7 linked regions of the Homo sapiens genome follow. The protein of the gene in region 2 interacts with the protein of the main gene of each other region in a biochemical or structural test. Each region holds a gene or a part of one and is shown on either strand. Other genes may lie near its edges.

Region 1 (4,794 bases), on a different chromosome or scaffold from region 2:
TCAGTGTGTCTTTAAAAGGATTTGTAATCCTCAACTACCACCATAAATTGATCAGAAGTTCAAAAACTCAATGCCTTCCTCAATCTCAAAAAATAACGCTGCATTTACCAATTATGGTTGGGGGCAAGGGGCTGTATCCACATAAACACATAGTTCTTTGCAAAGTATGCAGGAAACACAATCCCTTTAAACTAGTTTCGATGCCCAAACACAGTGCTTTTAAACCAGTTTCAATTACCAAACAACTGGTTTTTCAGGGTAGCTAGTATTTCCTTACTTTCAGAAATAGACTGCTAATTTCAAAATAATAACCCGCTTCTCCTTTGCCTCAGGTAAAAAGATCCCCAAGGTGGACAAGTGTTTACTAAGCTCAGGTATCAAGGAACCCTTCAAAACACCATCCCAGTCTTGCGGGGTGAGGGGGAGAAAAAAAAAAACACCTTCCAAATCCATATTACACAGCTTTAACTACAGTAAGCATCATAGAAGCCAAATCATGATCTGATAATTCCCTTATTAGACTAAAAGTTACATTCCATACAATTAAAGCTCTTTGAGAAAATCTATGATTTCAAAACATAAAAAGCATCTAATGAAAAACATATACTTAAAGCAACTGGGTAAAATCTGTGGCCCATACTAAAAGCCAGAAGCTCCACCCCCATACCTGTGATCTAGCTCTTGCTTTTCCGGATCAAGTGCTTACACTGCTTCTTATCCAGGTTCATTTCACCCCATCTATAGGTAGAATGTGGGTACTGATAAAAGCTGTTTCTGATTTCATTTCCTACTTCCCAGATGTTTGCTCTGTAGTTTTTCTTCTTTTTCCTTCAGCTATTTATGAATACACTCTAATTTAGAACAAATTCAGTATGTCTTATTTTAAGCTGGGCAAGGCACACAATAAATGATAGCTACAAAGATAATTTCAAGATATTTACTCAGCGTATAAATAAGTTTGCCTACCTAGGCAAGATTTGGACAGGCTGCCGTGATCTTGCTTTAGAATAAAAGTGCTTAAAAACATAACTGGGAGCCTGCTGCTGCTGCTGCTGCTGTTACTGCTGAAACTACGGGCTATTGTGCTTGTCATAAAAGGGCTTGTGCTTAGAAATGAAAAAATCAAACATCCTCTGGGGAGATGTCCCTAACACAATCCCTGGTATGAATCATGCAGATACTTTAACTGCATCTCTTCCCAAAATGGATCAATGGAATCTTTTAGGAAGAATCAATGTGATTTATACCCAAAACTTAAGAAAGACTGCATTTTTCTCATGAATAATACTCTCTTATAACTCTGAATCAAGCAGTGAAATTCAATCAAGCGGTAAACATCTTTTAACTGGAAATATTGTCTAAACAGAATGACAAAACTAACAGAACTCTGAATTCTTTAAATAAGTCCAAACATGAAACAAGCATTCTTAAATGATGTAACTAAATACAGTAACCAAGTTGTCTCTTGAAATTCAACTTTGGGAATGCCAAAAATAATAGGCCACCTCTCAATATCCGCAAAAATATCGGTATGTGTAGGTTTTCTAGGAAAGCAATAAAAAGCAACAGTTTGGGAGATCTTTTTTCTTCAATTACTAATTGTAACACTAGAAAAATTACAACCTAGGCTGCACACAAACGCGACTCAAATGGGCAGTTTACTAAATGTCTGTCATAAGAAAGCCATCTAGTGTTAACGTTTAGAATGGAGACTGCAGACAAAAGAGGCAAAGAAAAGAAAAATCTGTGCGACTATTTTGAACTTACTGGGCAAAGACATGAGAATCACCAAGATTCTTTGAGGGTTTTTTTCCTTGTTTTTTTTAAAAAAAAGCCATCCTTGTCAAAACCCAGTCTCAATCTAACCAAAATCCAAAATGTCTACAATTTTGTTTTGACCAAAATCATGTTTTGGTGAGCACAATTCCGTAACCAATGCACTTGATTTTTTCCAATACTCAGGCCAGAGTCATCTTGGGCTGAATTAATTTAACTCAAGCAGGTTAATGATGACAAATATCTCCCACAGGGGTAATGCCAAGTTGTTCTCTCTTTCCGAGAAGCCTCGGCTCTCTCTTGCAGATGATGAGCCGAAATTGATTCTTTGGGTTTGCGGCACGGCTGAAAATTAATCTGTAGGTGTTCCCAGGGATATTCCCAGGACGTGGGCAAACTACCCTCACTGACACGGGAAGACCCGGAGAGGCCCAGGAGCTGGCAAAGTGGGAAGAAAGGTCGCGGTGAGTGAGAAGAGCGCTCGCCGGAGGCTCCCGGTCTTACAAAGAGGGATCCGTCCCGGTGAGGGCGCGCGCTCCGGGCGCACCCCCTCTAGAAGGGGAATTAGCCCCGCAGCAAGTTCGGCGTCAGCTGGCCAGGCGCGCCGGGGAAGCTGCGTCGGGCAACCGCGAGCCCTTCCAGAGAGCGTTAGTCAGAGCGAAGTTCTGGGCACCTGGAGAAGACCCTCCTCAGTGCCTGTGTCGCCGAGACGGGAATAACCTTTCAGCCGATCGATAACTTGGAGAGAACAGGCGGCGGCGGCTCCTCTTCCAGCCGGGGATCGGGAGCGCGGGCGCATCTGCGTCTACAAGCCGGACCCTGCGCCGCGACCCTCGCACCCCCGCGCCCCTCGCACCCCTCGCCGCCGTCAGCCCCCCAAAGCGCCCCGAAGGGCATCCCCTTCCCCTTCGGGACAGTCCCCGCCTGGCCGCAGGCATCCCGAACCGACCCTCGCCACGCTGCCCGTCGGATTCCCCGACACGAACCTTCGCAACGCCGTCCGCCGGAACCTGCTACAGCCTGTGCGCGCCGGGCGGCGCGTACCCGGGCTGCCGCCTCGCCGCCCGCCGCTGCCCGGGGCTGCCCATCGGCCCGGACTCTCCCCGCGCCGGGCTCCGGCGGAGGCGGCCCGGACCCGCTGGCTGCGGCTGGAGCTCTCGGCCTGCGCTCGGGCGGCCGGCGGGGGCGCGGTGCTCCTCCTCCGTCCTCCTCCTCCTCTCGCTCCGCCAGCTCCTCCCGGGCTCCCAGTCTGCCGCGCCGGCTCCCGATGCCACCGCCCGCCCGCCCAGCGGCACCGCCCCCCGCCCGCTCTGCGGGCTCCCATTGGTCGCTGCCTGCAGGCCCCCTCGGCCCCGCCCCACGATTGGGCGCGGACGCCGTCAGTCTCACCGTCCGCCCGGCTCCGGGCGCAGCCGGTGCGCTGTTCCCAGGCCCCGCGGCGCGCGGGAGCTGCGCGTCCAGGAGGGGCCCGGACGCCCTTCTTGGGGAGGGGGCTGCGGGGCGCATCATGAGCGGCGCTGGGCGAGCTCGAGGGCCGGGCAGCCTACCTGGACCCCGGCTTCTAGAGAGCCGTCGCCGTCCTTGTCGAGACTCGCTTTCGCCCCTCTGAGGAATAAGTTAAAAACCGCGAGTCTGGTTCTGAGCCGCCCCCTGGCGCAGGCGCGACCCCACCCGGCCCTCCCGTCTCCCAACTTGGGACAGACGCGGCGGCCGGGCGGTCGGATCCGTGAGCCTCGGCCGCTGGGGCTACATACACAGCCCAGGACGCCACAGAATCGCCGAGGCCCCGCGAACGCCCAAACGGCCGCAAGTCGAAGTGATCCCATCTGAAGAAGACAGCGCGAGGAAGCGAGACCCTGCTGTGTGCCGGCCCCCGGAGGGCGCCCCGGGCCCTGTGGGTCGGAGGGTGGGGAAGCACAGAGAAACACGCAGGCAGTAAAACGTTAGGAGGACAGGGGGTGCCAGCGTGCAGGAAATGCTGCTAAGAGACCTTTAGGAGCCAAGGGGAAAACGGAGAGATTGGCAGTTCCAGGCACCCACATCCCAGCGCGGTCCGCTCACCCCTTCCTCCCTGCCCTCCAGGCAGCGCTCAGCCCACGGTAGAAATGTCTTGCATCTTTTTTCCGACGAGGAAGAATTGAACTTTTTATACCCAACTTTTCTGCTTTCTTAGAAATGTTGACTCACCTGTGAGGAAGCATTATTTGAAACTATTATTGTAAATTGCTTGACATTTGAATTAGATGCTGAAAGATTAAAGGGTCTCAGAAGAATCTTTTAAGCTAGACTGGAATTGACTCTGCCTAAATGGACAGCAACAGTCATCTATACGCAGGAATAATAAAGCAGGTGGAGGCAGCCTCTAACTTACCTTCCAGCCACACCGTAGAATTTCCTGAGCAGGCTTTTTTGTCAGAGTTTTGAGCTGGGTTCCCTGAGACTGGATTGGGGCTTTCAGTTTCTCCCCTTCTAGAGTCAGACTTCTTCCTGAAGAAAAAGTGTTATCTCTACTTCCCTATCACAAACACTTCCTAGAACACAGCCCTGTTAAAAGGTAAATAGAGGCGGTCCTTCCCACACTATATTTCTCTGTGATCTGAAGCATGTACACATTATACAATCTTTCGTATCTTTTTAAATTATAGGTATAATCTGTGGGATTAGATATAACTAAACAGGTCAAGAAGCAATCCTGTGACATAATACAATTCCTGAGCACTCCAGGTTTTGATGAGTTTCCCAATTGTCACCCCATTATCAGCATTTACAAGATTGTCATGTATTCATTTAACAAACATTTATGAAGCCGGGCGCGGTGGCTCAAGCCTGTAATCCCAGCACTTTGGGAGGCTGAGGCGGGAGGATCACAAGGTCAGGAGATCAGGATCTTCCTGGCTAACACGGTGAAACCCAGTCTCTACTAAAAATACAAAAAATTAGCCGGGCGTGGTGGCAGGCGCCTGTGGTGGCAGGCACCTGTAGTCCCAGCTACTCGGGTGGCTGAGGCAAGAGGATGGT
Region 2 (4,292 bases):
AACCATTTAAATTACATACCTGCCTTCATTTAGGGTTTGAGATAAATGTCCGGTAGCAATCTGCAGATAAGGAGAGTAGTACTGCAGATCCTTGTTCAATGGGCTTTTTACTCACACCAAAACAGGGTGGTATTCAAGTGAAGCTAAAGGGTGGCAAGCAATTTAAAAGCAAACCAAGAGGCCTGATGTTCACATCTGGGACATCAGCAGACGGTGATGGCTCTCCTTCCCTCTGTATGTGAGGTCTATAATATTACTGACTCCCATAACAATATCCTGATAGTAGCTTTGAATTTGCTTTGTCCGATGACTTTTCTGGATATGGGGACACAGACCATCCAATTTATAAAATTAGCTAAAGAAGCCACTTTCCTGATTGACAAATGTGACATATGCCCATGTCTATTACACAAACAGAACCACTGGGTAGCCAGAAAAAAAAAAATCTGAAGAAAAAAAAAGCCCCCTTTCCCTTCCCTTTTTTAAGAGGCCAAAAGTTCTAGCAATGATGGGAAAACTCTTTTTTAGGCCATCAGATTAAGTCAATGGGGCTTGAAAGGCAAAGACAGCCATATGCACTGAAAATGCCAAAAAAAAAAAAAAGAGGTGTCATTGGGATAACAACTTGAGAACTATAGTTATATCCAAAGCATCATGTGACCTACTTGAGTGTTACTGATGACCATATTAGCAATCAATTCTGTTGACCTTAGACTGTGGGGGTTTGCTGACGCAGGAGAAATCCCACAGGGGAAAAAGAGCCCCAGCAAAAAAGAAAGAGGCCCTCAGAAAGCAGTTCCCAATCTGCCCTACAAACTGAATCCTCTATTTCTCACTGCTGGGTGTATATGCTTCCTAGTGGCTGTCATATACTTTCAGAAATATGCCAAGTCACACACAACCTAACAAACAAAACTTTATTTTCCTTTAATACAAAATTAAATAGCAAGGGGTTTTCTTTGTACAGTGATAAATTAGAAATTTACAGTACAGACATCGATGCAGACATACTTTTGTACATCCTTAAAAGCAGGGTCCATTTCCTTTGAAATTTAGCAATTCATTCAGGGCATGTGTAGCAGGAAGTTTGCCTGGTACCTCTTTGTCAAACATCTGAAAGTCCCCCAGATTGGCTTCAAGGTTCCTGGAGCTGTGGGGTGGCATGAGGACCCAAGAAAGGCCACAGAGCATCCAGCCCGACTGCTGCACAGAGCAGGGGAAGTCACATTTTATCTTTTTTTCAGATTACATCCGATATTTCATCTACCTTTCTTACAAAGAGCTCAAGGGGCCATCATTTTTTGACCTTTTCAAGCCTCACAACATCCCTGTGAGGTAGACAAAATTCAGAAACACCTCCATGCCTCACTGGGAGAGATCTAGAAAGCAGCTTACCCCTCCCAAAGCCCACAGCCAAGTCAGGGCCCCAGCCTATTAGTACAATTTGAAAACTTTCACAACCTCGGAGAGAAGATGGACCCAACCTTTGTGGCGCAGAGTGGCTCTTGCCCCTCTTTTCAGAAGCCTTCTAGGATGACAGTGGTCATGTACTGAATATTGTAGGAGAGCAAGGAGGTTTAAAAGCTTTGAGGACATGGCTCATATAGGACCCCAAAAAGGTCCTCTACAAATTGCCTGGGGAAATTCTGGGAATTGGCTGATGCAAAGAAGAAGAGAAAAAAGGTACATCAGAAACAGAAACATGCTACTATCAGGGCAACTGAGCTTGCCAAGGGGAAGAGGCATGTCGGGGGATCTGTAAGTCATTTGTCTCCTGGTACTGTCAAGTGTGTAATCACCGCACAAGTGCATGGCAAGAGACAGCAACAGAAAGCTCTATGTAGGCTAGAGTGAAATGAAATCTATTATGTGGGGCTCCAGTATCTGATCCTTGGTAGGAGCAAAATGCTCTCTAAGGAGTTTCCAAGATCTATGATCTAACCCTGGAGGAAAAGTGATAACCCAGGTCATTTGCCAGACATAATACAAACCCAGAAGGGAACTCTAAACTCAAATAAAATAAAGGAACCAATAGGATTTTCAGAGTCCAGTGACTCGACATGATTGACTGGAATAGCAACTCTCTCCAGTGTCCTCCATCACAGAACAAAATACAAGACGTAAACTGATTTTAAGAGGTTCCTTCCAGGCCAGGTGTGGTGGCTCACACTTGTAATCCCAGCACTTTGGGAGGCTGAGGCGGGCAGATCATGAGGTCAGGAGTTCGAGACCAGCCTGGCCAACACAGTGAAACCCCGTCTCTACTAAAAATACAGAAGTAGCTGGGCGTGGTAGCACGCACCTGTAGTCCCAGCTCCTCAGGAGGCTGTGGCAGGAGAATCACTTGAACCCAGGAGGCAGAGGTTGCAGTGAGCCAAGATCGTGCCATTGCGCCCCAGCCTGGGTGACAGAGCAAGACCCTGTCTCAAACAAACAAACAAACAAACAAACAAACAAACAACAAAAAAAAGGTTCCTTCCAAAGTCTGTGCTCAATGGCTCCCTTCCCTAACTGCAGCTGTGGTCACCTCACCAGAAATCAAATACTGCACCGACCTGGTGAAATCCCTGAGTCTATTCCTCTAGGGCTGAGACTGTTGAGCTCATCTTTGTGTCCTCAGGTCCCATCTTGGTTCTCAATACAATAAGCATTTAATTCAGTGACCATGAGGATGAGGGGAGCCAGAGAGTATAGAGCTAAAAGGTGCTGAACAGAATCTCAATTCAGTATCTAGACACACAAGCTTCCCGGAACCTGAGTTTGGAGAGTGCAGGTGAGACAGTGACCTGGGAGAGGAAAATCAGAAAGCATCTCTGAAATTAAAAAAATGTCACCCCTTCTCCAGTTTCAGGCCCAAGTAAGTTGCCAGTTCAGCAACAGTCTCAGAGATCAGGAAATGGGTCTCCATAAAGGAAAGAGGATATGAATCAACCAAGTAGCTCAAGCAGATGGTTCTGGCCAGCACCACTCTACCCCCATGTTCCCTTGCCCTGAGGTTTGGCCTATATGAAGCAGGAGAAAGGAATCTACCAGAAAGGAGGTTGGACAGAGGTGCCATTGCACCATGTTTAATCTCTGGAGGCCAAGGGATTTCTGAGGAAGCTACAATCATACCCATTTACTGTAGGTTTCAGAGAAAGAAAAACAACCCTCACCTTTTCTCTAGCAAGATGCTGTCCTCAAATATACCTATACAAGTCACATGGAATACCCCAAGCCCTGAATTGCCGGCAAAGCCAAAGCAGATGTGTGGGCCCATGTCCTTGTGGCCTACTCTCATAGTCTTCCTAAGGGATTTCTCCAGAGACTGTCACGAAGCAGAGCTGATGCTTTCTGTTAAAACCACCTGTAACTGACTTGGAAGGAATCCTGGGAAAGGGATGAGAGATGTGTTAAAAGTAGAGAGACCCAGGCTGGGTGTGGTGGCTCACACAGGAAGAGATTTATGGAATGGAGACAGTGAAACAGATGGGAATTCCAGAGGTCCCTGCTCCTTTCCCAGAGGAACAGTAAAGTTCAGCAGACCTGGGTGCGTCCCCATCCTAGATCAGTTAGAAGAACAGAGATTATCTATTTCAGGGCTTTACTACAGTCGGCACTCAATAAATAAAATAACTGATTTTTTTAACAAATACCGATTTAAGAAGTGATGGAGTTGATTGAAGGTCACTGGTAACTGACCCCTCAGCCACAAAGTTCTTTTCCTGAAACCATAAACACTCTCCATTGTCTGGAATGTGAAAGGAGAGGCCTATAACCCTGTAGCATTGCTAAGGCTACTAATCCAAATGGCCACTTCTGATCAAATACACTTTGCCCTGAAAAGGCAAGAGATTTGTGGAAAAGGCATGTCAAAACCCAAAGCATTGTCAAAACACTAGCTCCAGAACTCAAAACTCAGAAATCAGGTGCCCAGATTCACCCAAGTGCTCTTTTATTGTTATTATTTAGTCATTGACAAGTATCGATCACCTACTCCATGCCTGGCTTTCTGCTAGATGCTGCCTTGGTCACACAATCACTGACACATTATGAAGAAAACTGCATTACAAACCTCTATACTCTAACAGCAAGACCAGTCCCCTACCGCCTGGTCTTCCTTCCCCTGCCTGGGCCAGAGTCCCTGCACAACTCCCAAGACACCAGAGCAGAGCGTGAGTAAGGGCAGGCTCTGCCCCTGGGTGCGTGCTCCAGGGCCGTGGACAGTTATGGGAACTGTCTACAAGCAGCACAGGGAGTTCACATTTTACATTTCATAGGCAATGGAGTATCAGATGGAGTTAAAATGGTTC
Region 3 (4,292 bases), on a different chromosome or scaffold from region 2:
GGGTTCCAGGGATTTCAAAAGCGACCCCCCAGAGGATCGCTTGCACTCAGGAGGTCAAGGCTGCAGTGAGCCATGATCGTGCCACTGCACTCCAGCTGGGTGACACAGTGAGATCCTGTGTCCAAACAACAACAACAACAAAAACCGCCCCTAAGTTCCGTTTTGTTTTGCAGATGACATCCTGTGGCCCGAGGGGGATGAGGCCCTACCTACGGAGGCCCAACTCCTCATATCCAGCCTCCTGCAGACCAACCCTCTGGTCAGGCTTGGGGCAGGTAAGTCCGCCATGCAGAGGAGCTGAGGGCCCACTGATAGAGAGCAGGCCTCCAAAACCCCAGGCCCAGCCTGTGCTGTGGCCCCGGGGCGGAAGACATGGGGGGCGGGGCTGGGCTGCTGGGTTGGCCATCAGCTGTGGCTGGAATCCCTTCCGTCCCAGGCGGCGCTTTTGAGGTGAAGCAGCACAGTTTCTTTCGAGACCTGGACTGGACAGGGCTGCTGAGGCAGAAGGCCGAGTTCATCCCCCACCTAGAGTCGGAAGATGACACTAGCTACTTTGACAGTGAGCTGGGACACCAGGCACGACCTGGGTCGAGGGGTGGGATCCGGGAAGAGGGACCCTGGGGTAAGTAAAGCCTGGGATAGGGCCTGGCTAAGTACCAAGATGTGATGCCTAGGTGCGAAGGTGGTATTTTGGTGGGGGCGGGGCCAAGTGGGGCGGGGCTGACATACAGGCGGGGCTCAGGCTGAAATGTAGGTAAGAACCTGAGATTGGGCTAGGTGTGGGGCCTGGCCTGGGTGAGTTGTGAGTGTGGGCCTGGAACTGAACTAGAGAGAGGTACTAGCGCTCAGAATGGCCTGGGGTGATGCCAGGGTGCAGAGCACTGTAGGTGGAGCGTGGCCTCTTTGGAGGCGGGGCTAGACGGTGCCACTGAGAATGGGGCAAGGACCTTGCCTGGGAGCGGAGCCTAAATTAAATACACTAATGAGGCAGGGGCGTGGCCTGACCTGAAGACTTGTAAACCCGTCTTGAACCAGGACTGGGCTCCTGTGGGGATGTGATATGAGGAGGAACCCCGTACCCTCAGTCACAGCCCATACCCGCTCCCCAGCCCGCTCAGACAGGTATCACCACGTGAACTCCTATGACGAGGATGACACGACGGAGGAGGAGCCCGTGGAAATCCGCCAGTTCTCTTCCTGCTCTCCGCGCTTCAGCAAGGTGGGCCAAGTCTGGGTGTGGGACAGGGCGAGACCCCAGGAGGGATGGGGCTTGGAGAGACAGTGAGAAACAGGTTCCCTGGTGCCCAAGGTCTCAGGAGCGGGAAGTTATTGATGGGGCGGGAGTCTGGAAGGTGGTAAGGCCACGCAAGAGGCAGGTTCGGGAGTCTATGGGACGGGCCTTTGGCACTGAGTGGAATCTAACAGGAATCAGGACAGTTGTGCAGATTGAGGCCATGGTGGGGCGGGGCTAGGTGTGGGTGGGGCGGGGTCAGGACGTGGGAATGAGGCCAGCAGCGAAGGCGGAGTAAAGCCCAGCGAAGTCTTGCTTTTATTTATTTATTTTTATTTTTTCTAATAACGGGCAGAGAAGCCATAGGCCTTGCTTTGAGAAGCAACTTGTAGAGGCGTGCAGGGCCTAGCCTGGGCTAAGGAGACATAAATTAAGGGGGTTGCTGGGAAGATGGGGCTGTGTAGAGAGCAGATTGGTCAGGGCATCGTCGGGGCAGAGCCTAGAATAAAACGCAGTGCCTAACTTTGTGGTGTGGGGCCTGAACTGAAGAATTGTAGGTTGGGGGATCATGCACAATTGGGCGGAGCCAGGCCTCGGAGGGTGGAGTGCGTTTTGCGGGGGATCCACTGCCAGGAAGCTGATTAGCTCCGGAGTGAAAGTGGAACCCGGGCTGGACTTGCCTCCCACCACCACCTACAGGTGTATAGCAGCATGGAGCAGCTGTCGCAGCACGAGCCCAAGACCCCAGTAGCAGCTGCAGGGAGCAGCAAGCGGGAGCCGAGCACCAAGGGCCCCGAGGAGAAGGTGGCCGGCAAGCGGGAGGGGCTGGGCGGCCTGACCCTGCGTGAGAAGACCTGGAGAGGGGGCTCTCCGGAGATGTGAGCAGGGGAATGGCGGAGTTTGGGGGCGGGGTCGAAGGGGGCGTGTCTTCCATAACCACGCCCCCTCCATGCAGCAAGCGATTCTCCGCGTCCGAGGCCAGTTTCCTGGAGGGAGAGGCCAGTCCCCCTTTGGGCGCCCGCCGCCGTTTCTCGGCGCTGCTGGAGCCCAGCCGCTTCAGCGCCCCCCAAGAGGACGAGGATGAGGCCCGGCTGCGCAGGCCTCCCCGGCCCAGCTCCGACCCCGCGGGATCCCTGGATGCACGGGCCCCCAAAGAGGAGACTCAAGGGGAAGGCACCTCCAGCGCCGGGGACTCCGAGGCCAGTGAGTGCCCTATCGTGCTGCCTTCCCCAATCTTCCCCAATGTCCTACTGGTCATATAGTGAGCATCCCACGAGCCTGGTGCTGTTTATGAAAGATCTCAGGTCCTATTCACATTGCAATTTGGGATTTTTTTTTTTTTTTTTTTTTTTGAGACAGAGTCTCACTCCATCACCCAGGATGGAGTGCAGTGGCGTGATCTCGGCTCACTGCAACCTCCACCTCCCAAGTTCAAGTGGTTCTCGCACCTCAGCCTCCCGAGTAGCTGGGATTACAGGCGCGCGCCACTACCCCCGGCTAATTTTTGTATTTTTAGTAGAGACAGGGTTTCTTCATGTTGGCAAGGCTGGTCTCGAACTCCTGACCTCAAGTGATCTGCCTTCCTTGGCCTACCAAAGTGCTGGGGTTACAGTCGTGAGCCACCACACCCAGCCCAATTTGGGATTCTTAACATTAGAAACACCCCAATACCATGGTCAGTCAGTGATACAGACCGATACAGACTATGTCTCTATATGAGGAGCAGTGAGGCATGCAGGTTACCTGCTCAGATGAAACTCACCATCCATCAAGGGTAAAAAGTGGAAAGAGCATTCCAGGCAGGGAAACAGTATGTGGGAAATCCCTGGCCTTGGACTAATTCCTAACACACTTGCTTTCTGTTGCAGCTGACCGTCCACGCCCAGGTGACCTCTGCCCACCCTCGAAGGATGGGGATGCATCAGGCCCAAGGGCTACCAATGACTTGGTTCTGCGCCGGGCGCGGCACCAGCAGATGTCAGGGGATGTGGCAGTAGAGAAGAGGCCTTCTCGAACTGGGGGCAAAGTCATCAAATCAGCCTCAGCCACTGCCTTATCTGTCATGATTCCTGCAGGTAATGCTGGGCCCCACCTGGCAGGGGAGGGGCTGCCCCCCATTTGAGGCAGGACAGACCAATGAAAATGCTGCATTTTCCCTGTCCACCGTGATTGGCTCCAGGCTGGACCAATGAGAGGCTGCTCTGCCACTGCCTTGGGAGGAGGGAGGAGCAGATACAGGGAGATGTCTATCTTCTTGGTTCTGATTTCTGACCATGGTTGTGTGTCTGTAGTGGACCCACATGGAAGTTCACCCCTTGCTAGTCCCATGTCTCCACGATCTCTGTCCTCCAACCCATCCTCACGGGACTCCTCACCCAGCCGGGACTACTCACCAGCTGTCAGTGGGCTCCGCTCCCCCATCACCATCCAGCGCTCGGGCAAGAAGTATGGCTTCACACTGCGTGCCATCCGTGTCTACATGGGTGACACGGATGTCTATAGTGTCCACCACATTGTCTGGGTGAGTACTCATGGGTGGAGTCTCCATCACAGAGTGGAGGGTGGTGGGGAAAAGGCCCCTCCAGCTCAAACCAGTTAGCCTGGGTGAGACACCTCTGTGACCCTCTATGCCTCTTCCCTCTCTAAACCTGTTTCTTTTTTCTTTTACTTTTTTATTTTAGGCGGAGACTCACTGTGTCGCCAGGCCGGAGTGCAGTGGCAGGATCTCGGCTCACTGCAACCTCTGCCTCCTGAGTTCAAGCCATTCTCCTGCCTCAACCTTCTGAGTAGCTGGGACTACAGACAGGCGCGCGCCACCACGCCCAGCTAATTTTTGTATTTTTAGTAGAGACGGGGTTTCACCATGTTGGCTAGGATGGTCTCAATCTCTTGACCTCGTGATTCACCCACCTCGGCCTCTCAAACTGCTGGGATTACAGGCGTGAGCCACGGTGCCTGGCCGAGACTGTTTCTTCATCTGCAAAATGGGGAGAATAGGCCAGGCGCAGTGGCTCAGGCCTGTAATCCCAGCACTTTGGGAGGCTGAGGTGGGCAGATCACT
Region 4 (4,292 bases), on a different chromosome or scaffold from region 2:
GGCTCACGCCTGTAATCCCAGCACTTTGGGAGGCCGAGGCGGGCGGATCACGAGGTCAGGAGATCGAGACCATCCTGGCTAACATGGTGAAACCCCATCTCTACTAAAAATATAAAAAATTAGCCGGGCCTGGTGGCGGGTGCCTGTAGTCCCAGCTACTCGGGAGGCTGAGGCAGGAGAATGGCGTGAACCCGGGAGGCGGAGCTTGCAGTGAGCCGAGATCGCGCCACTGCACTCCGGCCTGGGCGACCTAGCGAGACTCCGTCTCAAAAAAAAAAAAAAAAAAAAAAAAAAAAAAAAAACTTAAGCTCATTTTTTTCCTTTAGTAAGTTACATTGACTTTAAAAGTGAGCCACAGTTTGTATTTTGACAAAGGTAGAAGGACAAGGAGCATTTGCCTTTTTATTATTTAAAAGTAAAAATAAACATGGAAAAGGTAAAAAGCTGTGGGATTGTCAGTAACACTGCACTGAGAATTAGCAAAATTGACCTTAGGGAACAAAGCTCTGCTAAGCTAAAGGTATGAGGTAGAAAATATTTTCCTCTTTATGTACCTCATCTTCCTTTAGCCTTTTAGGTAATGGGAAAGGATAAAAAAGAGATTTCTTTTTTTTTTTCTTTTCTTTTTGAGACGGAGTCTCACTGTGTTGCCCAGGCTGGAGTGCATTGGTGCAACCTTGGCTCATTGCAACCTCTGCCTCCCGGGTTCAAGCGATTCTCCTGCCTCAGCCTCCCAAGTAGCTGGGATTACAGGCGCATGCCACCATGCCCAGTTAATTTTTTTTTTTTTTTGTATGTTAGGTAGAGATGGGGTTTCACCATGTTGGCCAGGCTGGTTTTGAACTCCTGACCTCAGGTGATCCACCCACCTCAGACTCCCAAAGTGCTGGGATTACAGGAGTGAGCCACCGTACCCAGCCAGAAAAGAGATTTCTGATTGTGTTAAACTACAGATTGTAATTCAGTAGGTCGGGGGTATGGCCTGAAATTCTGCATTTCATCCCTGCTCTAGTAAACTCATTGTCTAATGGAGAAGGCAGGAACAAAACAAAGAAAAATGACATGCAATGCTATGAGTAAAAAAAAAAAAACAATCATTTTGCATAAAATTCATTCTAAAAGCAAATGTAATATTTAAACAGGAACCAAAAGCAATCAGTGCAAAGGGACTCAGAAAGGATGATCACATGCTATGTGTCAAACAGCATTGCACTCTCTTAGGTTTTCACATGTATTTGGGCAACTAGAAACCCTGACATTTCCACTAGAGACACGGAATACAATTTAAGAATACATGACACGGCAATGTATTTGAGAGGCCAAGGCAGGCAGCTCACTTGAAGTCAGGAGTGCTGGTTGTGGCTTTTCTCTCATCTATAAGCAGGTCAAGAGGTCAAGACTAAAAACCTGGACAGATGACATTATGTAATTAGCATTTTTAAATGAGAGATAGTTCTTCATATGCAGCATCAAGGAGTCTTCAAGGACCTACATTTCATAGCAAAGCTGGTCATTTGGCATAAACCTGGGTTTAATATCCAGGGCTTTTGGCACAGCATGGTGGCTCATGCCTGTAATCCTAACACTTTGGGAGGCCAAGGCAGGAGGATCACTTGAACTCAGGAGTTTGAGACCAGCCTGGGCAACATAGTGAGACATCGTCTCTATTAAATAAATAAATAAATAAATAAAATCCAGGGCTTTGGGTAACTAGCCAATGAAAACAGAAAGCACGGGGAAGAGAGAAATTTCAAAGGAAGCCGGAGCTAGAACCCTAGTGTTCTCAGTGGGATGAGATCACACACCAGGATAACAATCTTGAATTTTTTCTAACTATTGACTTAAGGTCCAAGAACAGAAAAGCACCATTCCACAGCTCTCTACACAAGAGTGGCACCCAAGTCTGCATCATGGAATATGTAAAGTCCTTTTTTGTTTTTGTTTTTGTAGATATGGTGTCTTGCTGTCTTGCCCAGGCTAGTCTCAAACTCCTGGCCCCAAGCAGTCATCCCAAATGTGCTGGGATTACAGGCATGAGCCACCACCCCTGGCCTGGAATTAATAAAGTCTTTGAAAGTTAAGAAGAAACATGAAGCAACAAGGAAAGTGATCACTTACCAAGTTCACCAGAGGACCACCAGAATTCCCATACTAAAAGCAGAATTTGAAAAAGACATCAGTGAAGCTAATGAATACATTCCCCCTTGTCCTTTACACATAGCTCCCAAAACAGTTTACCAAAAGCAGCCCACCAAGCTCCTATTCCCCCCAGGCCGGCAAAATTGTGCCCCTATCATCACCAATACCAAAGTCAGTGTAGGTAAAGAACTATAGCAGTGGGACCACCACCTTCATTTTTTTTTTTTTTTTTTGAGACGGAGTCTTACTCTGTTGCCCAGGCTGGAATGCAATGGCGCAATCTCGACTCACTGCAACCTCTGCCTCCCGGTTCAAGTGATTCTCCTGCCTCAGCCTGCTGAGTAGCTGGGATTACAGGCACCCGCCACCATGCCCAGCTAATTTTTGTATTTTTAGTAGAGACAGGGTTTCATCATGTTGGCCAGACTGGTCTCGAATGCCTGACCTCATGATCCACCCCCTTCGGCCTCCCAAAGTGCTGGGATTACAGGCATGAGCCACCGTGCCTGGCCAAGGGACCACCACCTTCTTACAGGAGGGGTGACCTCTACAACAGACCACCTAATAGCATGGATGCCAGCGATCACAGCGAACGAGACAGACTCTAACAAAGTGGCATTCCATTCCTCCCACAGTGATTCAACCAAACCTGGACATCCCCAAAGTTCACTCTGACATATTCTTCTCACTGAACTGCCAATATTGTGTGATCTGAGGAAAGGCCTCCTAAGTCAGCAATCCCCAAACTTTTTGGCACAGGGACCGGCTTTGTGGAAGACAATTTTTCCACAGACGGAGGGGTGGTTTGGGATGAAACTGCTCCACCTCAGATCATCGGGCATGAGTTAGATTCTATAAGGAACATGCAATCCAGATCCCTTGCATGCGCAGTTCACAATAGGGTTTGCACTCCTATGAGAATTTAATGCCGCCACTGATCTGACAGGAGGTGGAACTCGGGCAGTCATTCTCACTCGCCCATGGCTCACAGCCTGCTGTGCGGCCCAGTTCCTAACAGGCCATGGACCTGTACTGGTCCACAGCCCATGGGTTGGGCACCTCTGTCCTAAGTGACTTACATTAATTGTGGCATCAATCTGGACGTAGTCCATATCTGAATCCTTCATCCCCAGTTCTTTGCCCCCTCGCTGTTTGGTGCTGACAATTCCTGCAGTAGCTGTGTTCTGCAGAGAAAATGGGCTGCCCAAAGCCACCACAAACTCTCCAGCCCGAAGGTCAGATGATCTTCCCAGCATCAGTACAGGAAGTTCAGCCTGCACGTGCCCAAAAAGGGATGGGGAGGACAGAAAGGGTAAAGAACAAATCACGATCAGAATTGACCAAAGTGTGTGTCTAACACATATATGACGCTGTCTCTATCACCTTGGCCCTTACCACCTGAGAAGCACCCACTCACACAGCTTCTATGATTGCCTTCTACTTCTTCCTCAAAGTCCAACTACCATGAAGCTCTTGAGTGTTAAGATGACTAGGATCATTTCTAAGATCTAAAACAATTACTTTGTAGAAATTACTATTAGTAAACAGCCAGTGAAGTCACTGATGAACATAAACTGACATTAGGAATTTACACAGCACCATTCCAGCTCAAAGCTTAACAGTCAAAGTGAATAAGCCACAAACAGAAAGGAGATCACCCAGGGTGACACTTCTCACACTGTAATGTGCATGCAAATCACCTAGGGATGTTATGTTAATGCAGATTCTGAGTCAGCACATCTATCTGGGTAAAGGCTGAGACTCTGAACTTCTAAAAAGCTCTCAGACACCATGTCAATATATGTGATGTGCAGACTACCAGTACTATGTGTAGGAAGGACTTCAAAGTATTCCTTAGCAACTTTGAGTCCATCGCAGTAATTTCTGATATCCTAAGACAAGTAGAGAAATAATTTTCCCTGAAGCAGCATTTGTTGAAGGAGGAAAAAAAAAAAAAAAAGACTGCTTGATAGTTAATAGAAACAGTTAGAGGCCAAGCGCAGTGGCTCACACCTGTAATCCCAGCACTTTGGGAGGCCGAAGCGGGCGGATCACTTGAGGTCAGGAGTTCGAGACCAGCCTGGCCAACATGGTAAAACCCAGTCTCTACTAAAAGTACAAAAATTAGCCAGGCGTGGTGGCAGGCACCTGTA
Region 5 (4,292 bases), on a different chromosome or scaffold from region 2:
AGGGTCTTACTCTGTTGCCCAGGCTGGAGTCCAGTGAAGGGATCATGGCTCACTGTATCCTCTACCTCCCAGGCTAAGTCAATCCTCCCACTTCAGCCTCCTGAGTAGCTGGGACTATAGGCACATGCCACCATGCCCAGCTAATTTGTGTTTTTTTCCTTTTTTTATGGAAATGGGTTTTTGCCATGTTGTTCAGGCTTGTCTTATAACTCCTGGGCTCAAGTGATTTGCCCATCTCAGCCTCTCAAAGTGCTGGGATTACATGCCTGAGCCACTATGCCTAGCTGAATTTTTTTTTTTTTTTGAGATGGAGTTTTGCTCTTGTTGCCCAGGCGGGAGTACAATGGTGCAATCTTGGCTCACCACAACCTCTGCCTCCCAGGTTCAAGCGATTCTCCTGTCTCAGCCTCCCGAGTAGCTGGGATTATAGGCATGCACCACCACGCCCGGCTAATTTTGTATTTTTAGTAGAGAAGGGGTTTCTCCATGTTAGTCAAGCTGGTCTCGAACTCCTGACCTCAGGTGATCCGCCCGTCTTGGCCTCCCAAAGTGCTGGGATTACAGGCTTGGGCCACTATGCCTGGCCAAAATTTTGTTTTTTAATATTCAGATAGCTATTATGACATCAGGCCTGCTGGGGTAACCTCACCCCAGGTGATAGCAGGACCGCAGCAAGTCTTGTCATAACACATCCAGGGGCAACATCGCTCCCAAGATTTTGAGCATGAGGAACCTTGCTTAGCATTTCATGAGCACTGGAAATGTAACGGGAAGGCTCACTGCTAAGAGGATTATTTGTATTCCCTAAATGTCACTTATATATGGAATGATGGAACTTTCTTTTCTATGTAGAAATTTCAGCTGATGATCACAAAATGAGAACAATTGGTAATAAATACACGCAGCATTCTTAAATGAGGTATCTCCTAAGGGTTTCATAAGAGGTGGCCAAACTGGCCCCTAAACCATCATCTCCCATCATTCACCTTCAGCCCACAGAAGTATAGTGATCAATTGATTTGAGAAGAAATTATAGGAGTAAAGACAGTAATAGAAAGGGGTACTTCTGCCTGTAACACCCAACAAAATAAGTGAGGGGGCTACAAGTAAACCCCTTAGGGAATTTGGAGGTAATTGTATAATAGGAGATTGTCACCCCACTTCCTACCTGTTTATTTTGTGACTTGCAAAAATTGACTGCCTCCTCCCTTCCCCATGCATGACAGCATTCTTGGGAGAGTCTGATGTGTGCTTCTGGAGTGAGGAGGCCCAGAGCTGGTGTGGGATGTGCTGGAGAAGTCTGAAGATGCAAGGCTGGTTGGAACATCTCTATGGTGGGGTGAGGAGGAGCGGTACAGTGGGAACAAGCTGTACTTGCATCATTTGGAGGGTGGGAGATCAGGAACTCTAATAAGCCAGGTAGATGCTGTGGCTGTAAGTTAAGCTAGAGCTGTCTCAAACTGGCACTGTCCAAGAAGTCTACCAGCCGGGGTAAGGAGACTCAGGGGTATATGTCTGAGGTCAGAGGCTTAGGGAAATAGGTCAGTGGGAAAATCACCTACATTAGTGACTGGTATAGTAAGGAGCACTCTAAAAAATCCACAAAAGTAGCCACAAAGATTCCTTGATGGCCAGATTATACCAGATAATGCCAGTTAAGTAAAATCCTATCCTATTGAATCTTGTCTTTGTCTCCTGGTTCCAAAGACTGAGAAATAGGAGAAGGTGGAATCCTGCCTCCCACCATACCATAGGATGCTCCTTGTGGTTCAGGTCCAACAGGCAGAAAGGAAGAAAGCTTTCATTTATATTGGATTGCATATTTTAGCCCCCGACAAACAAGTTGCTTTTTTTTTTACCCAAAAGTGACCAGAAAGCTATCAGCCAGAAAGCTGAGATGTCAGGGTGTGGAAGAGGCAGCCTCAACAGTTTATACTTGAAGGGGAGAGAAGAAACAAAGCTGTTTTCTGACTGTGCCATGTTGAGCCCCGTCTAGTCAATGAATGTATAGCATATGAAATCATATCTCACAACTGTGCTGGGTCAGTAGAGCAAGTATGCTGGCCTCATTTTAAAAGTAAGGAAAGTAAGGCTCAGGGAAGCTAAGCAATGTGTGTGAAGCCCCATTGCTCATGTGTGGGGAGTCATGGATCCAGACTTGGGCATCAGAGCCCAGACCCAGTGACATCTCCCCTGTACCACAGTGCCTCTGGAGGTGACAAGTGATGTGCCCAGAGGCCCGGCCACTGCACACCTAGAGTCACAGAGGGATGAGGTTCATCTACCCTGACTCCCCTGCTTCAAAAGAGGTATTCCAGAGGTAACACATAGGGCTTCCCCACTTCCCACTTTCCCTGTGGTGTCAGAGGAAGTATTTATTTTCATAACACTTTGGTACAAAGGACTGCAGGCATTGTCCATGCCTCTACTAAGTATTGGCCTTTCTTTTATGGTGTAATCATAGCTCACTGCAGCCTTGAACTACTGGGATCAAGCCATGCTCTGGCCTCAGCCTCCTGAGTACTTGGGATTACAGGTATGCACCACTGTGCCTGGCTAATTTTTTTTTTCTTAGAAATAGGGTCTCCTGCCTGAAACCCCAGCACTTTGGGAGGCCAAGGCAGACAAGGCAGATCACTTGAGGTCAGGAGTTCAAGACTCCTGGCCCACATGGCGAAACTCCACTCTACTAAAAATACAAAAATGAGCTGGGCGTTGTGGTGCATGCCTATAGTCTCAGCTACTAGGGAGGCTAAGGCAGAAGAATCGCTTGAACCCAGGAGGCGGAGGTTGCAGTGAGCCGAGATCACGCCACTGCACTCCAGCCTGGGCGACAAAGCGCGACTGTCTCAAAAAAAAAAAAAAAAAAAAAAAGAAAAGAAAAAAGAAAAAAAGAATAGGGTCTCCCTACCTTGCCCAGGCTGGTCTTGAACTCTTGGGCTCAAGCAATCCTCCCAGCCTCCCAAAGTACTGAGATTACAGGCATGAGCCACCGTGCCTGGCATAGTGTTGACCTTTCTTTGACAACAAACTTAAGACAGTGTCCTGTCATCACTGTAACTTTCCCCAAAAAGCTCCTCTGCCTCTGCAGAAAGAGAACGAGCACAGAATTGAGAGCCGTATGCATTTGGCTGAAGACGAGGAAAAGCGTGCGCTTTTTTCTGAGTACAGACAAAGGAGTGATTTTACCAGGAGAGACAAAATGAGAACCAACTTTGCCTTCAAAGCAGGCCCATACCTCAGCATGGCGCCGAAGCCCTTCTTCTTTATTTTCCTTTCTGGATCTTCATTCTCCTCTTTGCGCTTTTTCTCCTTGACTTTCAATTTGCCCTTTTCCTTTTTCTTCTCCTTCTCTTTCGTTTTTTTGACTTTCCTGGCTTTATTTTCCATGTCCTCTAGCTCCGAATTCCCCTGAGGGGCAGACTCACAATTCAGAGCTCCTTGGCCAGAGTGAGAGCTCTTATCAGACAGACCGTCTGTACAGAGAAAAAATAATCAATACCCATGGTCAGGGGCACACTCAGTTAGTATACAGAGAAACGCTAACATGTAAAATGCAAAAGAATGAATAACAGCACTCTGTAGTTCTACCCTTCTATGTGGTTACGTGCGCCCTTTGAAGATCTGACTGCCTAAATCTGGTTACTTCGAGCAAGACTTGATGCTGGGAGTGGGGACAACCGGTTGCTTAGCTGGTAGTATGAAAGGCTTGATATGTGTTCAAGCACTAATCTCTCTGAAAGCTGCCTTGTTAACCTTGATCAGCTCAGAAAGCCTGCATGCTGGGAAACAAACAGGGTGAGAAGAGAGTTTTGAGTACAAAATATCCCAACTGCTTCTACCCAATTAATGCAGTCGGAGTCCTTGGATTGATGCTGCCTCTAATGACTCGAATGAGAATGTCAAGAAATGCATACTTAGTGCTCCTACCCTAAGGGTAAATGACAGTTGGTCCTTGTAGAAAAGTGAAGGAGAACATTTATTTAGCCTTGCACTGTAAAATAAATTGCATATTGTGTTCTCCAATTCCATGTTCATTAAGCCAAAGGGCAAAACATATCAGGAAAATGAATTACTTTTAATATCAAAAATATAATTGTGATCCTTAAATCATTTTTTTCTGTAGTTGAGCACACATTCTTGCCCATGATTTGCAGATAATAATGAGATGAAGAAGCCATTTAAGGAAGCATATCATCCTACCAGCTTCTATTTCTTCAGGTCCATCGTAGGATTTGTCAATGGCTGCTCTAAAGCTCTCATTGCAGCCTCGGCCTCGAACCATGTGCGGC
Region 6 (4,292 bases), on a different chromosome or scaffold from region 2:
TCCCAAAGTGCTGGGATTACAGGCGTGAGCCACCGTGCCCGGCCTGTTTCTTTACTTTCTTAATAAACTTGCTTTCACTTTATGGACTTGCCCTGAATTTTCCCTTGCTCGAGGTTCAAGAACCTTCTCTTGGGGTCTGGATCAGGACCCCTTTCTGATAACACTTACATGAAATATCCACAAGAGGTGTAGACAGAGGCAGAAAGTGGGTTTGTGGTTGCCAGGGCCTAGGGGCAGAAGGGAATGGGGAGAGCCTGCTTAGTGGCCGTGTTTTCCCCGTTGGAGGTGACCAAACTAGACAGTGGTGATGGTTGCATAACACTGTGAACGTGCTGCTTGCCATTGAATTATACACTTTAAATAGCTAACTCTATGTGAATTCCACTTTAACTTAAAAAGTGGTGACAACTGAATATGTACAAAGCGTAACTGCTATATTAATAGTAACAAGTCAACGTCGGTTTTCAGGTTTTGCAGTGGGAGAAGCTGGTGGAGGTACACGGGACTCTGCTATTTTTGCAGCTTCCTTTGGATCTATAATTATGTCAAAATAAAATGCTTTTAAAACACAAAAACAGGCCGGGCACGGTGGCTCACGCCTGTCATCCCAGCACTCTGGGAGGCCGAGGCAGGCAGATCACCTGAGGTCAGGAGTTTTGAGACCAGCCTGGCCAACATGGTGAAACCTGGTCTCTACTAAAAATACAAAAATCAGCTGCGTGTGCTGACAGGTGCCTGTAATCCCAGTCAGGAGACTGAGGCAGGAGAATCACTTGAACCTGGGAGGCGGAGGTTGCAGTGAGCCGTATTGCACCATTGCACTTCAGCCTGAGTGACCAGAGTGAAACTCCATCAACAAAACAACCAAAAAACAAAACACCCATAAGAAGTGTTACCTTTCACAGTGTTGTAGATTGTCTGGGGCCTGGCTGGGAAGTCGTTCTGCTCCACGTGGTGTCCCCGGGATCACTGGTGGGACTGCATTCGCCTGGAAGCTCAGCAAGACCAGAACAGCCAGTGGCAGCCCTCACCAGTCCCGCACCTCAGCTAGGTGCTTCAGCGGCCAGAGGCTAGCTGGGCCTCCCCGACTCCACGGGGCCTCCCTTCCTTGGGGTGATGCCAAGAGCTTCTTTCCATGGATGCTGAGTTCCAGGAGCATGAAAATAGAAACCAAAGGCCCTTCAGTCTGGCTTGGAAGGTCCCAGAATATCACTTATGCTGCATCCTGTTGTTCGGAGCAAGTCAGAAGGCCGGAGAATATTGCAGGGAAGAAGAGATAAGCCCCCTTCTCTTTGTGGGAGGAACTGTTGGTGGCCACCTTTGGAAATGCCTTGCCACTGTCTTTCCTCTGGCCACAGTCCACACCCCTCCCACATAAAAAATATACTCAACCCCCTTCCACCGTTAAGGCATCAAATCAGAGTCCAGGATCCTGGGATCTGCACCAGGTCCAGAAATGCAGACCGTCCAGAGCTGTGAGACATTCTCGGCAGTGCTAACACACACGTTGTGGGACTCCTAGGAAAAGAAACAGAACAAGGCCAGGCATGGTAATCCCACGCCTGTAATCCCAGCACTTTGGGAGGGCAAGGCGGGCAGATCACTTGATGTCAGTTTGAAATCAGCCTGGCCAACGTGGTGAAACCCTGTCTCTACTAAAAGTACTAAATTAGCCAAGCGTGGTGGCAGGCGCCTGTAATCCCAGCTACTCAGGAGACTGAGGAGAATTGCTTGAACCTGGGAGGTGGAGGTTGCAGTGAGCTGAGATTGCACCACTGCACTCCAGCCTGGGTCACAGAGCGAGACTCCGTCTCATAAAAAAAAATTAAATATTTATATTTTATATAATAAAATATAAAAAATGTTTATAAAATATACGAATATATTACGTATACATGAATATGTAATATATTCATATATAATTATATATTTATATATATTCATATATTTTACATATCTTAAATATATATACAAACACTATATATATATATATATTTTATCCAGTATTTTGGGAACCTGGCAGTGGTCGCCGTTTCGAGCCAGGCGCAATGCGGAGCCGCACACAGAACTGCGGGTCGGCAGAGGGCGCGGGGCGGACGCGCTGCACCTCGCCGTAGCGCACACCAGGGGGCAGCGTGGAGCTGCACGAGGCCCAGGGCCTGGGACAGACCCAGGACACCGATCTGGGGACCCCGCACAGACCTCTGTCCCAGTGAGAGGTGCATCTGCAACTGATGCCGGGACCCTCTTCCCCAGGGTTTCTCTGTTGCTATCAAAGATGACCCTGGGCCACCAGTTCCACCACAGCCAGGAGGGCGCGGAAGCCACCCACACCCAGTTGGTGGAGCTGCTGAGGATGCCCAGCGACCCACGCTGTCACCCCGAGGCAGCAAGTGCCCTGCCCTGGTCCTGCGCATGGTCAGCCAGCTGGTGGAGAGGGACGCTGGCCTCCTGCCCGGGTTAGGGCCGGTGGCCAGGGGGACGCTGGTGAGGATTAAGGGCCTGGGGCCGCCAGCCTGGTATCAGGGCCACGCTGGTGGCTTTAGTAGGGGAGAGGAACTCAGGAGGGAGCAGGAGTCCTGGGAGAGGAAGCAGGGCCCAGGGTGGGCTCGGCGCCTCAGAGACCATCAGGCCGGTCCACTTTCCAACGCCTGGGTGTCTAGACCTTTCTCTGGGGCCTGTGCTGAGCAGCGGGATCAGAAGTCCAGCATCCTCTGCCAGGTCTGGCCCTGCTTCAGCTGGGAGGGGCTGTTGGAGCTGCTTCCTGCAGTGCCCTGTGTCTGGGTGGGACGGGGGCAGGGAGAGTCAGTTCAGATGATCCCCTGATGACAGCTGTCACTGCATTCTCCCGTGCCGGTGGCAGGCAGAGGCCATGGGGAGCCCCTGCGGCCCCTCCGAGCAGCCCACGCCTGCTGCCCGAGTTGAGACCCCAGCAGGGCACCCTCTAAGAACGGGAAAAATAGTTTATTGAACCGTACTTCTCCATTGAAGTCTTTAAACATAAAAGCTCTGTAACAAACATCACAATTTCACGTCATCTGCCATATAAATAGAACCTACACTGAGATGCATGTTATCAACAGGCATGTCCCCAGGGTGAGGCTCCCCACCCGGGACCCAACTTGGTCAGTTACAAAACAGGGACGAAGGCGGGAGGAAGCCCAGTGTCACCAGGTGGGACCGGGTGCCGGGCCTGTGGGGGTGTCCTCGCAGCCCCCCTAGAGAGGGGGCGTGCGGAAATGGATCTTCTTGGCTGTTTCCACGTCGGACTTCGCGACCAGGAACCGCATCTTCTTCCCGCCATGACGGATCAGGTCCACAGCTCTGAAATCCATGCCAGAGGTGGGGGTGGGCAGGAGGGCACCAGGGGAGACCCACAGGGTGCAGCCGGGCCTCTCCTTTACCCCAGGTCCACTCCCCTGAGCAGGGCATCTGGGAGAAGGGGCCGGGCGTGCATGCGGTGGGGGTACCTCAGGTAGCCAAGGCCCAGGAGGCTGCTGCCATTCACCTCCAGGATACGGTCCCCCAGCGACAGGCGCCCGTCGGCCGCTGCGGGGCTGCCCGGGAGCAGGGTCTGGATGTAGAGCCCGGGGGCGCCCAGGTGCGTGTGCTGGGGACAAGCAGAGGCCTCAGAGCTCCGCAGGCCCGACTGGCTGTCCCCAGCGAGGACCACTGCAGCCCCTCCCTTGGCACCTACAGGCCCCCGCCTGGCATCCAGCCAGGCCCACTCATGGTTTCACGCGTCCCTCCAGAAAAGCAGTGGACACCACCGTCCCCACAGGCCCAGGACAGACCCCAAAGGCTTGAGGACAGAGGCAAGAGACAGCAGGCCCAGGGGGCGTGGCCGTTGGACAGGCTGGGTTCCCCTCCCAGCTGCAGAGGCCAACCCCACTCTCCTCCCCGAAGGCCTTCCTGTAGCCACGTGGCCACGCAAGCTGCGGCCAGGCTTGCATGAACAGGCGGGGCCAGGCAGCCAGTATGGGGGTGCGGCGAGGGTCCTGGGCCACTCACCATCCCGTCGATCAGGCCCATCCCCAGCCCGGAGGGGCCTCGTTCCAGCTCCACCGTGAAGACGTAGCAGAAGTCCTCGGTGCTGGAGCTGCGGCTGGACGGGGCTGGAGGGGACTCCTCCGCAAGGGCTGCAGAGTCTCCTGGGTGGGGGCCAGGAAAGGTGGGTGGGAGTGAGGCGCCAGGAATCACGACGAGGAATGGGATGTCCTGGCCTGGCTGCCTCTGTAGGGCGTCAGGGATGGGATGGCCTCCTGTGGCTCCCAGGAGACGCTGTTCAGGCA
Region 7 (4,292 bases), on a different chromosome or scaffold from region 2:
TACTGATTAAACGAAAAACAAACTTTCCTAGCCAAAGAATAATGGTTGCTCTCCACCAGTACTTCAAATAAATACATCTGCTGCCATACAAATGCAGATTCAAGTCAGGTGTCCTAGCATTGTGTTCCTACCAAATAACAAGACTTTTCTAAATACCTTAAATATAAAAATACTATATTTTGGACCACTATATCCCTGGAATTTGGGAAACATATATAAATTCCAGAACAATCCTGACAGTTTGCAGATATATGCTTAAGCCTAAGCAATGTTTAAATCCTCCTGACAGTGAACATTCAGGAAATGTTGAAATTGAAGTTGAAAGACACCACTTTAAATTCAGAATCTGAAATTAAAACTTGTGAATAGTGCTTCAATGAACATAAATAAATTTTTTAAAAAAGAAATGAAGGCCAGGCGCGGTGGCTCACCCCTGTAATCCCAGCACTTCGGGAGGCCGAGGCGGGCACAAGGGAGGCCTTGGACCACAAGGGCAGGAGTTTGAGACCAGCCTGGCCAACGTGGTGAAAACCCGCCTCTACTGAAAATACAAGAATTAGCCAGGTGTGGTGACAGATGCCTGTAATCCCAGCTACTCAGGAGTCTGAGGCAGAAGAATCGCTTGAACCTGGGAGGCAGAGGTTGCAGTGAGCCAAGATTGTGCCATTGCACTCCAGCCTGGGTGACAGAGCAAGACTCCGTCTTAAAAAAAAAAAAAAAAAAAAGAAAGAAATGAAAAGAGTCAGTTTTTCAGAATAATTCAGTTAACTCATGCTAATTTTCTCATTAAACTATTCAAAGTTAACCAATGCATATCAATACTCTTCCTATAACTTGGCCACTTTTGTAGGAACAAAGTTAAACTGCTATATGGTAGGCTTCTTTTTTTTTTTTTTTTGAGATGATGTTTTGCTCCTGTTGCGCAGGCTGGAGTACAATGGAGAGATCTTGGCTCACCACAACCTCTGCCTCCCGGGTTCAGGCGATTCTCCTGCCTCAACTTCCTGAGTAGCTGGGATTACAGGTATGACCCACCACGCTGGGCTAATTTTGTATTTTTAGTAGAGATAAGATTTTTCCATGTTAATCAGACTGGTCTGAAACTCCCAACTTCAGGTGATCCACCCGCCTCGGCCTCCCAAAGTGCTGGGATTACAGGCATGAGCCACCACGCCCGGCCTTTTTTATTTTATTATTATTATTATTTTTTTGAGACAGGGTCTCACTCTGTTGCCCATGCTGGAGTGCAGTGGTGCGGTCTTGGCTCACTGCAACCTCCACCTCCAGGGTTCAAGCAATCCTCCTGCCTCAGCCTCCCTAGTAGCTGAGACTACAGGTATGCACCACCATACCTGGCTAATTTTTGTATTTTTAGTAAAGGCAGGGTTTTACCATGTTGGTCAGGCTGGTCTTACACTCCTGTCCTCAGATGATCTGCCTGCCTTGGCCTCCCAAAGTGCTGGGATTACAGGCTAGAGACAATGCACCCAGTCTATGGTAGGCTTCTGTATTCTGGTTGGTAGCAGTTTTCTCCAACGAGCAACAATGACAAAAAAAATCTGGGCAATTTTCACACTTAGAGGTCTCTGATCATGTAGCCAGTCCCCACTAAAAAGACCTGGGCATTCATACTATTCACTAATGATTAGTTTCCACCTCAAAAATGCTATTCAATTTTACCCGCACTGCCGACTGTACACTCCCAGCTTCTCCCCAGAAATTATGGTCATATCAGGAATCAGGCGTGGTGGCTCACGCCTGTACTCCCAGCACTTTGGGAGGCCAAGGAGACGGATCACTTGAGGCCAGGAGTTTGAGACCAGCCTGGCCAACATTGTGAAACCCCGTCTCCACTAAAAATACAAAAATTAGCCAGGTGTCATTGTGCACACCTGTAATCCCAGCTATTCGGGAGGCTGAGGCAGGAGAATCACTTGAATCCATGAGGCAGACATTGCAGTGAGTGGAGATCGCACCACTGCACTCCAGCCTGGGCAACAGAGTGTGAGACTCCATCTCAAAAAAAAAAAAAAAAGTAAAATAAAATAGAAAAGGGAAAGGGATACTATGAAAAAAGGTAAAAACAAAGCAAGGAAACATAGATGCCATTGGAGAGAGTTAATTCCATGGGGAAGGGGTTCAACTGTTAGTGACCTTTCAGTAGATAACTACTTTAAAAATGAGAATACTTCAAATTTTAAATGGTGGGAAGATTTACAACCTGACCCTCAACATTCACTTATCTCCCTCTTCTACCACACTACGTCCTGGAACTTCATTACAAGCGCCGAAAAATGGGTCGGGCGTGGTGGCTCATGCTTGTATCCCAGCACTTTGGGAGGCCGAGGCAGGCAGAACACCTGAGGTTGGGAGTTCAAGACCAGCCTGACAAACATGGAGAAACCCCCGTCTCTACTCAAAATACAAAAATATTAGCCAGGCATGGTCGCGGGCACCTGTAATCCCAGCTACTCAGTAGTAATAGTACCAGGAGAATCACCCGAACCCGGGAGGCAGAGGTTGTGGTGAGCCGAGACCACACCATTGCACTCCAGCCTGGGCAAAAATAGAGAAACTCCATCTCAAAAAAAAAAAAAAAAAGCTCCAGAAAATAACCCCAAGGGATACCAGGCAGAAGCCCTGCCCACCAGCCCCTATTGTCAAAGCAACATCCACTAATTATTATTAATGGAAGCTAAAGTGAAATGAAACTGACCTGTCCCTGAAAGCCCACAGACCCAGGCCTAAAAGCCATCTACCAAACCAAGCAAGGTGTGCAAAGGGTCAAAGCAAGGGCAGGACCTTGGTCTGCTTTGGTTCTAAGAGTACAACCTACATTAGAGAATGTTCATCTCACAGTGGTTCCACTAACTTCTTTGAACTATGAGGCAGCTTCCCAAGTGCAAGCAATCAATACAGACAAAATTCAAATGTGAAATTCTTAAAACACACATTGTCCTGGTTTACAATATTACTGTTCAGCAGGTTTTTAAACTTTATATAAATTACATCATACTGTATACTTATTCTTCAGCAACTTGCTATTTTAAGCTCAACTTTACATTTTTAAGATTTATTCATCTGTTATCCCAGCACTTTGGGAGGCCAAGGCAGGCAGATCACTTGAGCCCCAGTTTGAGACCAGCCTGGGCAACATGGCAAGACCCCATCTTGACAAAAAAATTTAAAAATTAGCCAGCTGTGGTGGCACACACCTGTACTCCCAGCTACTCAGGAGACTGAGGTGGGAGGATCAGTTGAGCCCAGGATGTCTAGGCTGCAGTGAGCCATGATCACACCACTGCACTCCATAGCCTGGGCAACAGAGTGAGACCCTGTCTCCAAAAAAAAAAACACCAGGCTGCGGTGAGGGGTGTTATTCATGATGATATAGGCAGTTCCTGCTCAGCCACTGTAACAACTAAGTAACATTCGATGGTAGGAATACATACTTTCTTCACCCAATCTCCTGTTGACGAGAATTTAGATCATTTCCTATTGGTCACTAATACAAAAACAGGATTAGAACTAAATGTGTACTTCAATAATCAACTTTTTGCCAGTTGATTCAATAGCCAATTATTGAAATATGGGAAATTCTATAGCCTATGAGCTTTGAAATCAGAGACTCAGGGTTTATCCCTAGGACCCGCTCTGTAGGCCAATTGTTTAAATCTCCCTACACCTCAGTCCCCTTGTTTGTAAAAAAGAGTTAATAAAAATTACTTCATGGCTGGGTGTGGTGGCTCACGCCTGCAATCCCAGCACTTTCAGAGGCTGAGGCGGGTGGATCACGAGGTCAGGAGTTCGAGACCAGCCTGGCCAACATGGTGAAACCCCTGTCTCTAATAAAAATGCAACAAGAGCAAAACTCTGTTTAAAAAAAAAAAAAAAATAGCTGGGCGTGGTGGCGGGCACCTGAATCCCAGCTACTTGGGAGGCTGAGGCAGAAGAATTGCTTGAACCCAGGAGATGGAGGTTGCAGTGAGCCAAGATGGTGCCACAGCACTGCAGCCTGGGCAACTCCATCTCAGGAGAAAAAAAAGAAAAAAAAAATTACTTCATATGTATACTGCAAACACTAAAGAGGATAATTTAGAGCATTTGGCCTAGCACATGGTACACATTCAACAAATGATAACTACTATTAGCATCTCTTTTCAATCAAAATGATTTAAAACATGGCAAAACCCCATCTCTACAAAAACAAAAACTAGCTGAGCGTGGTGGTGCGTGCCGGTGCGTGCCTGTAGTCCAGGCTGAGGTGGGAGGAACCCTTGTGCCCAGGGGGT

The links.
Region 1: the proteins of FZD4 (region 2) and SIPA1L2 interact in a test that uses a peptide from one of them, tested with the Homo sapiens proteins (one large-scale study listed by IntAct).
Region 3: the proteins of FZD4 (region 2) and MAST1 interact in a test that uses a peptide from one of them, tested with the Homo sapiens proteins (one large-scale study listed by IntAct).
Region 4: the proteins of FZD4 (region 2) and HTRA4 interact in a test that uses a peptide from one of them, tested with the Homo sapiens proteins (one large-scale study listed by IntAct).
Region 5: the proteins of FZD4 (region 2) and PARD3B interact in a test that uses a peptide from one of them, tested with the Homo sapiens proteins (one large-scale study listed by IntAct).
Region 6: the proteins of FZD4 (region 2) and RADIL interact in a test that uses a peptide from one of them, tested with the Homo sapiens proteins (one large-scale study listed by IntAct).
Region 7: the proteins of FZD4 (region 2) and PATJ interact in a test that uses a peptide from one of them, tested with the Homo sapiens proteins (one large-scale study listed by IntAct).

The regions. Positions count from the first base shown.
Region 1 is NC_000001.11:232,627,107-232,631,900, forward strand, and holds the start of SIPA1L2 (signal-induced proliferation-associated 1-like protein 2), read right to left. Parts: upstream 3,028-4,794; 5' UTR 2,763-3,027; intron 1-2,762.
Region 2 is NC_000011.10:86,944,776-86,949,067, forward strand, and holds the end of FZD4 (frizzled-4 precursor), read right to left. Parts: 3' UTR 904-4,292; downstream 1-903. UniProt on the Homo sapiens protein: Receptor for Wnt proteins.
Region 3 is NC_000019.10:12,865,544-12,869,835, forward strand, and holds part of MAST1 (microtubule-associated serine/threonine-protein kinase 1), read left to right. Parts: intron 1-173; coding exon 174-275; intron 276-436; coding exon 437-559; intron 560-1,109; coding exon 1,110-1,219; intron 1,220-1,930; coding exon 1,931-2,109; intron 2,110-2,186; coding exon 2,187-2,434; intron 2,435-3,099; coding exon 3,100-3,306; intron 3,307-3,522; coding exon 3,523-3,752; intron 3,753-4,292. UniProt on the Homo sapiens protein: Microtubule-associated protein essential for correct brain development. Appears to link the dystrophin/utrophin network with microtubule filaments via the syntrophins. Phosphorylation of DMD or UTRN may modulate their affinities for associated proteins.
Region 4 is NC_000008.11:38,977,074-38,981,365, reverse strand, and holds part of HTRA4 (serine protease HTRA4 precursor), read right to left. Parts: intron 3,414-4,292; coding exon 3,219-3,413; intron 2,152-3,218; coding exon 2,119-2,151; intron 1,408-2,118; coding exon of another isoform or gene 1,375-1,407; exon of another isoform or gene 881-1,374; intron 1-880. UniProt on the Homo sapiens protein: Serine protease.
Region 5 is NC_000002.12:205,300,648-205,304,939, reverse strand, and holds part of PARD3B (partitioning defective 3 homolog B), read right to left. Parts: coding exon 4,204-4,292; intron 3,477-4,203; coding exon 3,239-3,476; intron 1-3,238. UniProt on the Homo sapiens protein: Putative adapter protein involved in asymmetrical cell division and cell polarization processes. May play a role in the formation of epithelial tight junctions.
Region 6 is NC_000007.14:4,796,160-4,800,451, forward strand, and holds the end of RADIL (ras-associating and dilute domain-containing protein), read right to left. Parts: intron 4,152-4,292; coding exon 4,012-4,151; intron 3,611-4,011; coding exon 3,471-3,610; intron 3,325-3,470; coding exon 3,219-3,324; 3' UTR 896-3,218; downstream 1-895. UniProt on the Homo sapiens protein: Downstream effector of Rap required for cell adhesion and migration of neural crest precursors during development.
Region 7 is NC_000001.11:61,748,745-61,753,036, reverse strand, and holds part of PATJ (inaD-like protein), read right to left. Parts: intron 1-4,292.